Linked DNA regions of Homo sapiens: region 1 is linked to region 2. The links come from fine-mapping of genetic effects on gene expression. A gene starts in region 2. The other region holds a variant in brackets. All regions are shown on one strand. Distances are from middle to middle.

The links. PIP is the estimated chance that this variant, and not a neighbour inherited with it, causes the effect.
Region 1: its variant is fine-mapped to the expression of LARP6 in cerebellar hemisphere (GTEx, PIP 0.99).

What each region holds. Positions count from the first base shown.
Region 1 is chr15:70,827,474-70,832,846 of GRCh38, forward strand. It overlaps LARP6 (La ribonucleoprotein 6, translational regulator), which reads right to left. Exons shown (of 3, transcript NM_018357.4): 3 at 1,657-5,373. The coding sequence ends at 4,579. Among named protein-coding and RNA genes, the nearest start is that of LARP6, 24 kb to the right of the region's middle. The variant G/A (reference allele first, on the strand shown) is at 2,445.
Region 2 is chr15:70,851,634-70,857,006 of GRCh38, forward strand. LARP6 (La ribonucleoprotein 6, translational regulator) reads right to left here and starts at 2,524. Exons shown (of 3, transcript NM_018357.4): 1 at 2,256-2,524. The coding sequence starts at 2,455. It also overlaps a transcript of LRRC49 not described here. RefSeq lists an enhancer at 1,913-2,414.

The sequences.
Region 1 (5,373 bases), 24 kb before region 2:
TTTTTGTATTTTTAGTAGAGTCAGAGTTTCACCATGTTGGCCAGGCTGGTCTTGAACTGCTGACCTCAAGTGATCCACCTGCCTCGGCCTCCCAAAGTGCTGGGATTACAAGCATGAGCCACCACGCCTGGCCTGACTCATTTAATTCTAACAAATTGTATGAAATAGGAATTATTATTATCTACTATTATTATCTATTATTTATTGGAGAGGAAACTGAGACATAGGGAGGCTCAGTTGTTAGTCAAAGGTCACTTGGTCTTCAGAACCTGCATTCTTCACGTATTCCACATGGCCTCATCTCCAGTCTGGGTGACATGGGAGATGGTGATGCCACTGGCTGAGATGGGGAAGTCAGGAGAAGGAGCAGATGGGCATGTGTATGGAGCGGGAGGGAGGGTGGACAAAGTGGTGTTTTGGATATGTGTAGCGTGTAGATGTTCTGCCAGCACCTCAAGCGGAGATGGTCACCAGGCCTCGTGTCCCAGTGTGGAGAAGGAACTGGTTTTCATTAAAAATAATGAAACATCTGTAAAAATACCATTGGCTGAGTTTCTCAGTCAAGCTATTCAAGAAAGGCCGGCTATGCTAACAAACAGGAAGCCCATGCCCCAGCTGAAGATTTGGCCAGAGAGTTAGAAGGAGCAGGTTCATCAACAAGGTGCTCAGACCCCTGGAATGCCTACAAGAGACCAGGACTAAGCCTTGAGAAAGGAGGAGGGAATTAATGTGCTCCTCATTCCAGTGGCCAGAGCTTTCCAATGCTGCCTGCCTATTAGAATCACCTAGGAGATTTTATTTTTTATTTTTTAATTTTTTTTTGAGATGGAGTTTTGCTCTTGTTGCCCAGGCTGGAGTACAATGGCACGACTTCGGCTCACTGCAACCTCTGCCTCCCAGGTTCAAGCGATTCTCCTGCCTCAGCCTCCAGAGTAGCTGGGATTACAGGCACGCACCACCATGCCAGGCTAATTTTTGTATTTTTAGTAGAGATGGGGTTTCACCATGTTAGTCAGGCTGGTCTCGAACTCCTGACCTCAGATGATCCACCCGCTTTGGCATTCCAAAGTGCTGGGATTGCAGGCATGAGCCACCATGCCTGGCCAAGTTTTTTAATTTTTATTTTAATTTTATTTTTTTGAGACGGAGTCTCGCTCTGTCACCCAGGCTGGAGTGTGGTGGGACTATCTCAGCTCACTGCAACCTCTGCCTCCTGGGTTCAAGCAATTTTCCTGCCTCAGGCTCCTGAGTAGCTGGGATTACAGGCAAGAATCACCAGGAGTTTTAAAAAATACTCATGCCCTGGCCTCACCCCAGAACCAATTAAATCAGAATATCTCAGGGATGGCCAGAGGTAGTTGGTTGTTTTCTTTTGTTTTGTTTGAGACAGGGTCTCACTCTGTCACCCAGCCTGGGTGCAGTGGCATGATCTTGGCTCACTGCAGCCTTGACCTCCTGGGCTCAAGCAAGTCTCTCACCCCAGTCTCCCTAGCAGCTGGGACTACAGGCGAACATCGCCCTGCCCAGCTAATTTTTTATCTTTGTAGAGCCACAGTCTTGCTATGTGGCCTAGGCTGGTCTCAAACTCCTGGCCTCAAGCAACTCTAAAGTGCTGGGATTACAGGCATGAGCCACCATGCCTGGCCCATAGGCAGGTTTGTTTATTTTTATTTTTATTTTTTTGAGATGGAGTCTCATTCTGTTGCCCAGGCTGGAATGCAGCGGCGTGATCTCGGCTCACTGCAACCTCCGCCTCCCAGGTTCAAGCAATTCTCCTGCCTCCGCCTCCCAAGTAGCTGGGATTACAGGTGCGTGCCACCATGCCCGGCTAATTTTTTTGTATTTTTAGTAGAGACAGGGTTTTACCACATTAGCCAGGATAGTCTCAATCTCCTGACCTCATGATCTGCCCGCCTCAGTCTCCTGAAGTGCTGGGATTACAGGCGTGAGCCACCGTGCCCAGCCCCATAGGCAGTTTTTAAAAGCTCTTTAGGTGACTCTAATGTGAGGCCAGGGTTAAGAATTGCAGCAAAAGGAGGCTTGCCTTTGGAGGTGATGATCAGACAGCAGGATAAGTAGTGACTAATGCCTGCAAAGCACTTTTCCATTCAGAAAGCACTTGCACATATATGACCTTATTTAAGGAACATCTTCTTGTTATCCACTGGTTTGTGGGAAGAACTGTGAACCAATAAAATAAATGACTTGCTGAAGGTCACAGTTGCTTAGTAGAAAAGCCACGACTCGACCTCAGATCTGCTGACCCCCACTTCAGGGTTCTTTTATAATGTCACACAGGGCAATACGACCAAAGGAAGGCCAAGTTCATCTGTATTCACATGTAAAGGTGAGGGTGTAGGTATTTTTAAAAGTAACTATGATCCACGAGGGTTAATCTAAAAATAGAGCTGTGACTTGTGTAACAGGCATAATAGGGTGGAACA[G/A]CCTTGAATGTCACAGGCCAAGAAGAGCTGGTGAAGCCCAGATGGCCCGATGGCCAAGGAGCAGGTGGAGTGGCTGCAGGGAAGGAGCAGGCAGGGGGTGATGGGAGCAGAGTCAGGGAGGGAAGCATAGGGCGGGGCTGGAGGGGGCCCTGACATTGCCCAAGGTCAGGAGTCCTGGTGGTCTAGGCACAAGCCTTCAGGCTACCTACAGCTGGTAGTGCTGGAAATGGCAAATCCAGAACATTGCTGGAGGCATTTGCCAGTTAACACGAACTCTTCTGCATCTTAAGGGACAAAGCATCTTACTATCCAGATCACAATCACCTGCTAATTTGTATAGAGCCATATCATTTAGGATATACTATCTTTGTCCATTTTCACAAGTTTGGGATATTATTTTCCTACTTCAGCAGCTGCATGTGTGATACTGGCATAATAATTCCTTATGATGGACACTGAGAGTAAGTGAAATGTGTCTAACCCAATGCCTAGCACGTAGGAAGGTGCTGAATAAATATTAGCACCTTTTATGGTGGATTCTTTTTTGAATATGGATAGTAAAGATCAGAAATGTTGAGTACCACTTAGTGGTTAAACAGTGTGGGCTCCAAAGCCAGACCACTAGTTTCAAGCCCAACTCTACCAATTTAGCTGTTAAGCCTTAGACAAGTTAATTACCCAAGTAAAGTCTGTTTTTTTCTGGAATAAAATAGAGATAATACCTGAACATTTCTCTTGTAGTTTTTGGGCAGATTAAATGAGATAATGCATGGAAAGCTCTTAGCATAGTCCCTGGCACCTAATCACTGTTCAATAATTATTAACAAGCTCTATTAAATCCTGCCAAATAGCCAGAGCATAAGCCAACACTGGAATCTAGGCCAATGCTCTTTCTGCTACACCAAGGCAGCTCCTGATGATAACAAACATTAACCCAAGTGAGAAGGAAAGAGAGCTAACATTTATGGAGGGCCAGCTGCATTCCAGACATGGACATCGTAACAAAGCAATTCACAGGGAGATGATGAGGTTCACGGGGCTTAGTAACCTTCCCAAGGTCACAAAATAGTGAGAGATTGGGGGTCAAATGGACTGACCTCAAGTCCTGCAGCCTTTGTCCATCCAGTGGTTCTCCAGCGTGCATCAGAATCACCTGCAGCGTTTGTTAAAACCCAAATTCCAGGCCTTTCTCCCAGACTTTCTAATTCAGTGGGCCTAGGGTTGGCCTGAGAATCTGGATTTCTAATAAGTTCCCAGGTGAGATCAATGCTGTGGGTCCTGGACTGTACACCCTCAGTATACGCCAAGCTGCCTTTGCTCAGTAAAATTCCCTGTGATGAGACACCACTCAGGCTGCCAGAAGCCCAAGGAGAGCCCTGGGGCTGCCCTGGGGTACAGTGAGAAACCCTAAATGCCCTGACTTGATCACTATGCATTATAAACATGTAACAAAGTTTCTCATGTAGCCCATAAATGTGTACAAATAAAAAAATTTTTAAATGTTCTCTTAAAGAAAAGAAAGATGTCTCTGCTAAGCTCCTCAGGGCCTCATGACATACCACCCACAGCTCTGTCAGACAGGCACAGACTTTTGTCAGGCACAATCTATAACCTCAAAGTCAGCACTCCCAGTTGGGTGTTTTATTATTTATTTACTTGACAGGTAACATCGATTTGGTCCTACAAGACACCATGCTATAGGCTTAGCTACTTGCTGTTGCACAAGAGAACTTTCCTGAACTCTCAGGAAGCCCTTGCATGGCCTATCGAGGACAGCTCAGTCACTGAAGGGAAAAATTCCATACCAAAGAAGAGAGAAAAATTCCATACCAAAGAACAGACTTCCCCCAGGGAACCTCCGTCCTACAGCCCTTCAGGGCCATCACACTCACACACATCAGCCATCATCAAAATAGTGGCCATGCTGGGAAGAACAGGAGTCCTGAACTAGAAGGTGGTCTTCAAACCATGGCGTACCGATTTATGTATATTACAGATAGATAAATTAAGAGGTCTACATGAATAAAAAATCTCTCAAAGGGGAACGAATTCCATTCTGTCATGCCAGGTGTTTGTCAGAACCTTGAAAACGAAGGTGGTTTTCAGTGGAGCTTGTATTAAAAATAGAAGGTATTTATACACAGGCCCTGCTCCTCTCATGGCCATGAAATCCTCTGGTGTTGTCAGGACCCCTGGGCAACCTCAGCACCCCTACGGGTAGCCCATCTGCAGTCTGCATCTTCCGGGAGAGCAGGGGACTCGTACCGGGGCTTTTCTCCTGGGTCCCCATCTCGGCTTGGCGACGCCTCCGGACCCAGGGGCTGCCAGAGGGAGTGACGCTGCTGTCAGAGGAATAATCCATACACTTGCGGAAGATCTCAGGGCTGGTGCTGCAGTTCAGTCTACCTTCCTCCGCCAGTGGGGACTTTCTGGAAACGCCTTTGCGTTGGGCCAAGGGGCTGCTCCAAGGACTTGTGCACGGGGAGGCATTTGGACTCAGAAAGAGATTCTGGTGGCCAGACGGGCTGAGCTTGTTGGTGGCCGCGTGCCGTCGGCCCGCCATAGGGGATGTGGGGTTGCTCTCGGGGTCAGAGGAGCTGTTGGCAGAAGACTCATCACCCATGTACTGAAGCTCCTCGACTCTCTTGTTCAGGGACTTGTTCAGGTGGATGCTCGCAGTGGGCTCCTCGTCATGATTTTTGTCTTTGGCAGGTTTCTTTTTGGGTGGCTTCATACCAATCAGGACAGCTTTCATGTTCTCTTTGCCCTGAGATTCTGTGATCATGAACTCATGGGCTTTGATGGCTGCTTCCACCTCCTCGAACTCCACGATGGCGCACTCCTGGGTCCCCACTTGGCTGTAGCGGCTGCTGATCCTCCGGATGTCAGGGGGCAGCTCTCTCCCAGGTTTGAGGATCCGCACTGATGA
Region 2 (5,373 bases):
ATGTCCTATGTGCTGGGTGCTGTGCTAGGTGCTGAAGATACAATGAACGAAGCAAGCATGGTCCTTGAATTCACCGAGCTCCTATTCCTGTGAGGGAGACACAATGATAGAATCACAATTGTGGAAGGTGCTAGGCATAAAATGTACAGAGTACTACAGCAACAGAGAAGAAAGGAAACACAGCCAGCTCTGGGGTGGGGATTGGGGGTGGTGGAGAAGAGGCAGCGAAGTTTTAAAGGCTGACTAGAAATCAGTCAATCAGAGGACCTAGAGGTGGGGGTGCAGAGGCATGTAGACACAAAATAGCCCCCTATGCTCAGGGAACTAGCTGGAATCACGGGAGCGTGAACTGTTGACAGCGTGAACTGTTGAGGCAATGGGCTGAGGAGATGATGTGAGTGGGTGTCACATCTTAATGAGCAGATTGAGGAATCTGGGTTTTCTCCTGTAGGCTCCAGGAGCTGAGAACATTCACATCGGGTGATGGCTGCTGCCATGCGAGCCTGGGTCCAAACAGGGGATAGTGTGGATCCTGTTCTTGGCTACATCTCCTCCTGCTCTGGGTGCCTGCCCACTGGGCTCTGTCAGCTCACCGAAGAACCCCAGGGATTTTCTGGGGTCAACTCTATGCCAGTGGGCAGCAGGAAGGGCTTCAGACTGAACACTTGCTGAGACTCAAGCCACGGGAGCTGGGCAGTTCTGGAGGAAGAGCAAGAGGGGTTCAGGCAAGAGGCCTACCCATACTGAGGCTTGGTTTCTCCTAGACCTCCATAGGGGATCTTTCCAGGCCTTAAACATAAGTAGAGCTTTAATCCTGGCTAATGATACAATCTCACAAATTTAGCCCTCAGGATAGGGATGGCTATTTGCCACTGCCACAGGAAAATAAAGTTATAAGGATAAACCACTTGGGGCTATTTTACATACTCTGATATTGTCTGACTAGGGGACTGCCTTCTCGAGACTGTGAGCTGTCAGTGACTAAGGGTTCATCATTTTTATGCTCTCGGTACTTGGCACAGAGCTAAACGAATCAGGCCTTGCATTATAAAGCACTGATCTATCTACTTTGTCATACACTATGGTCCAGCTTTCCTGCCCTACCCTGGTGGGCTGACTTTTCTCCCCTAACAACTGTCTCTACTGGTCTGCCCCGAATCTCTGGGTCCAGAAGTCTGACCCTTTAACCTGGGGAAGGGTGAGCCAGTAATAGAGAATGGCTCTGGGCCCAGTATTCTTCCACCCTTGAGTTGAGTATTCTCCCAGTGAAGTAGATATACGCTTGCCAGGACAATCCTGCAGAACCTTAACAGCTAAACGCCTGGGACAGGGTCCTAGAAGAAAGAGAGCTCCTAATAAGTGCCTGTTGGCATCCACCAGAATGTGCAAGTTCTGTCATTTCCCCACTCTCATGTCTATGTCTATGTTTTATCTCCTTTCAACAGCAGGAACAAAACACCAGTCCTTAAGGGCCTGGGCATTAGTGGACAGGAGCCAAGGTGCCTGAGGACAAAGCTCGGGACCCGGGACAAGGTTAAACAAGTGCCATAGCAGCTCCAAACTACCCAAAACCCAGGAACACCCCCCCCCCGCCCCCCGCAAGGCAGCAAGATGATGCAAACATAAAGGTCTGGTGGGAAAGGCTGTGTGAAAATGGGAATCCCCCAGGGCGGAGGAAGTAAAGCAGCAAGTCCTCTATCCGTCTCAAATTACCTTGAAATCCCACCTCCTGGAATCCCCCATCAGCAAGTGTCCGCTGTACCTGGCCTGCTACCACCTAAAGACTGAGCGCAGCCAGCAGGACTGGGAAAGGCAGGGCGATGATGGCAGTGAAGGGTAAGCGGGACCACTCGCAAGGGGAGGGGAAGGCGGGTAGGGATGGACTTTGCGGCGATGGGGAGGTGGTGTCTTGAGGGAGCCCACAGAGAAGAGGCCTCCTCCAGAGGAGGGGGTGGCTTGGATGGCCCGTGAAAGTCCTCCTCCTGGATCCCTGAACATCCCCACGTCCAGGCCCCTCAGATCCCGGCCGCCAGCCCTGGGAGCCTCGGTTGGGCGACGAAGCTGCGGGCTGGGGCACCGGCTGCCTCCACGGGCCGGTTCTGACTCAGGGGCTCGGCCCGGAGCTGCTTCCCCGGCGGCGGGGCTGACTCAACCCCCTCTGCCCGAGGAGTTGTCGCGCGCAGTCAGCGCCCCGAACTCGCGCGCGGCCCGGCGCCCCCTCGGGGCCCACCTCCCGGGCCAGCCGCCGCGCCTACCTGTGCCCGCGGCTCGGCTCCTCCTCGCTCGCGCTGCCCCAGCCGGGGCTGAGGTACCGGGCCGGGTCCCCGGCGCCCCGAGTCTCCGCCCCCTCCTCCTCGTCCTCCAACTCGTCCACGTCCTCGGCCTCCTGGATGGCGACGCGGATCTGCACCGCCGTCTTGGGCCCGGGCCGAGCCTCCCCGCCGGACTGGGCCATGGCTCGCGGGACTGCGGCGCCGCCGGGGTCCTCACGCCGCAAGGCCCAGCCAGCCGGTCGGCAGCGACTGCGACGAGGGGGCGGGGGCGGTGCGAGCGCGCCTGCCGCTCGGCCCAGGGGAGGGACAGGGGTCGCGGCGCCCCGCCCCGCGCCGCCGCCGCCGCCGCCGCCGCCGCCACCACCCCGACCGCTAGTGGAGCGCCCGCGCAGGCGGGGCCTCGGAGGTGGAGGGCGGCTTTCCGGAGCTCCTCCGACGGAGGCCCGTCCCGGAAGGATCCCCGCGACCCCCGATCACTCCCTCCGTCTTTTCGCCGCTGTGGGGCCCCAGCCCGAGAGGAGGTGTCAGGGCTCCCTCCTCCTGCGCCTTCTTTCACGGCGCCGCAGGGATGGGCGCAGCACAGCTGACTTCTGTTTGTGCTTGACTCCGGGGGTGGCAGCCAGAGACCACAGCTCCAGGGGCTTCCAGGCCTCCTGCGTGTCTCCCCCACTGGCCTGCCAAGATCAGAAAATTTCCATCGTTAGTCTCCTTGACATAATAACCACCCTAGACCGCGTCTTAGGAGGTCAGGGGCTTGGCTCCTGCCTTGCCCTGTATCAGTTTTTCTCCAAGTGTGGTTCCCAGACCAGGAGCATCAGCTGCACCGGGGAACTTGTTAGAAATTGAATTCTCAGGGCTCATCCAGACCTCCTGAATCAGAATCTATGATTCAGAACTTTGTGTTTTAACAAGGCCTCTAGGTGATGCTGAAGTTCACAAAAGTTCGAAAGCCGATGGCCTATAGAGTATGCCCTGCACATAGTATGCACTCAGATGTTTGTTGAATGAATAAAGGGAGCTATTGAAATGTCAGGATGTTCTAAAACACTGCCACCTTTTCACGTGTAACTTCAAATTGAGTTCCATCTCACCTCTCCAAATGTGACCCAGAAACTAGGGACAGGAGCATAGAAATGAATAAGACCGGCCGGGCGCAGTGGCTCAAGCCTGTAATCTCAGCACTTTGGGAGGCCCAGGCGGGCGGATCACGAGGTCAAGAGATCGAGACCATCCTGGCCAACATGGTGAAACCCTGTCTTTACTAAAAAAAATACAAAAATTAGCTGGACGTGGTGGCACGTGCCTGTAATCCCAGCTACTCGGGAGGCTGAGGCAGGAGAATCACTTGAACCTGGGAAGCAGAGGTTGTGGTGAGCCGAGATTGTGCCACTGCACTCCAGCCTGGGCAACAGAGCGAGACTCCGTCTCAAAAAAAAAAAAAAGAAAAAGAAAAAAAAAGAAAGAAGGAAAGAAGAAAAAGAAATGAATAAGACCTGAATCTGCTTTCATGTAGCACTTTATTTAGAGCCTTAAACATAATTTATCATATTAATTTGCCACACTGGGACCCCAAAACAACAGAACCCTGGACCAATACATTTGTTTTGATATAGAAAGACAAGTTAGGATAGGCTTAGGAAATGAGGTCTCCTGGAGGGCAGTGTCCTTGTAAAAGAACACCATGTATAGGGTCCTGGGTGTCTGGGCAGGGCTGGGGAGAGACCCAGGGGCCCAGCGAGGACAGCCCCTCTTCTTAAGGACACTAGAATCTGTGTCCCTTTCTTTGTCGGACCTCTGTTTTGATAGAAGAGGTCCTAAAATAAGTAAGTAAAGGAAGAGAGAGAGACCTTTGGTGCTATTGCTGTTTCTGCACCAGAACAGCTCACAGCCCTGGATCTGAGCTACTGGGAAAGGAAGAGGCAAGAGGCTGACAGTGTCTTTTTCCAGCCAGCTGTGCCTCCCTCCAGGGCTATAGATCCTCTGCAAACACCTGTGATGAGGCTCAGAAGGAAAGAGCTGCAGCAGCCACCATGCCTTCCAGTTTGATAATTTCGGTTCCTGAATTTCACAAAGTGATACCCATTATCTATCTCATTTAAGCCATCTCGTGTGGCAAAGACATCAGGGGTTGTTATCCTTACCCACAATGATGGCTCACATTCATCTCAGGTTTTATAGTTTATGAACAATTCATACATGTCTTTTCAGGGTTTCCAAATGCCTGATCATAAGAGTCCCCTGGGGACTTTTCTTAAAATATAGATTCTGAAAATACAGTTTGAAAACTGACAGTTGGTGGGTGAATCTGGGCTGTAGAAGCGTTTTACTTGGTGAGAGTTTTGAAAAAAAGAAATTGAATTTATATGTCCTTACATTCAAACATATCTGCCTATGTTGTTTCTGTTATTACTTATTTCTGACTCCTCATAAAGGAATTTTGGATCTAGAAAGAATGTCAGACATCATCCAGCTCGGAGCTGCTCCTGGTAGGGAATGGGTAGTCTGGCAGAGTACCCAAGAATGGGTACTCTTAGGGGTACCCATTAAGTCATAGCATAAATATGGGGCATCTTTCTGGGGTATCAATTTTACTTAGCTATTTGAGAGAACAGCCACAATGTATATATTAAAACAACTTGGAATATCTGTGAAATCAAATGCAAAACTTGCACGGAATGTTTAAGGCAACTCACATAAGTTTCTCATTTATAGTAGTTGGCTTAGAATAATGCCTAGAGGAGCGGAGGACAGAAACCCTCATTTGCACTAGGGGTATTTCATGGGAGAAGTCCAACTCGATCACGTTTGCAATGAGGAGAGTGAGTCCCAGTGAGGCTTAGAGGGAAGGGCCTCTTCTTCCACTTTGTTGCACCCGATTTTGTCTAGCAGGGAGCCTTCATCTAGGAACACTTGCTGATTTGCTTTGATTAGTCCTACCCACATACCCATCATTTGTGTCACTGGTGAAGAAACCAGGGCTTTTAAAGGGCTCCTTTCGATTTCCAGCTTATTCCTCCCCAGAGCCGTGGCAGGGGAAGGGAGGCCAGTCCCACCCAGGCCTGTCTTGAACATCATTGCAGGGAGTTTGCATCACCACTGA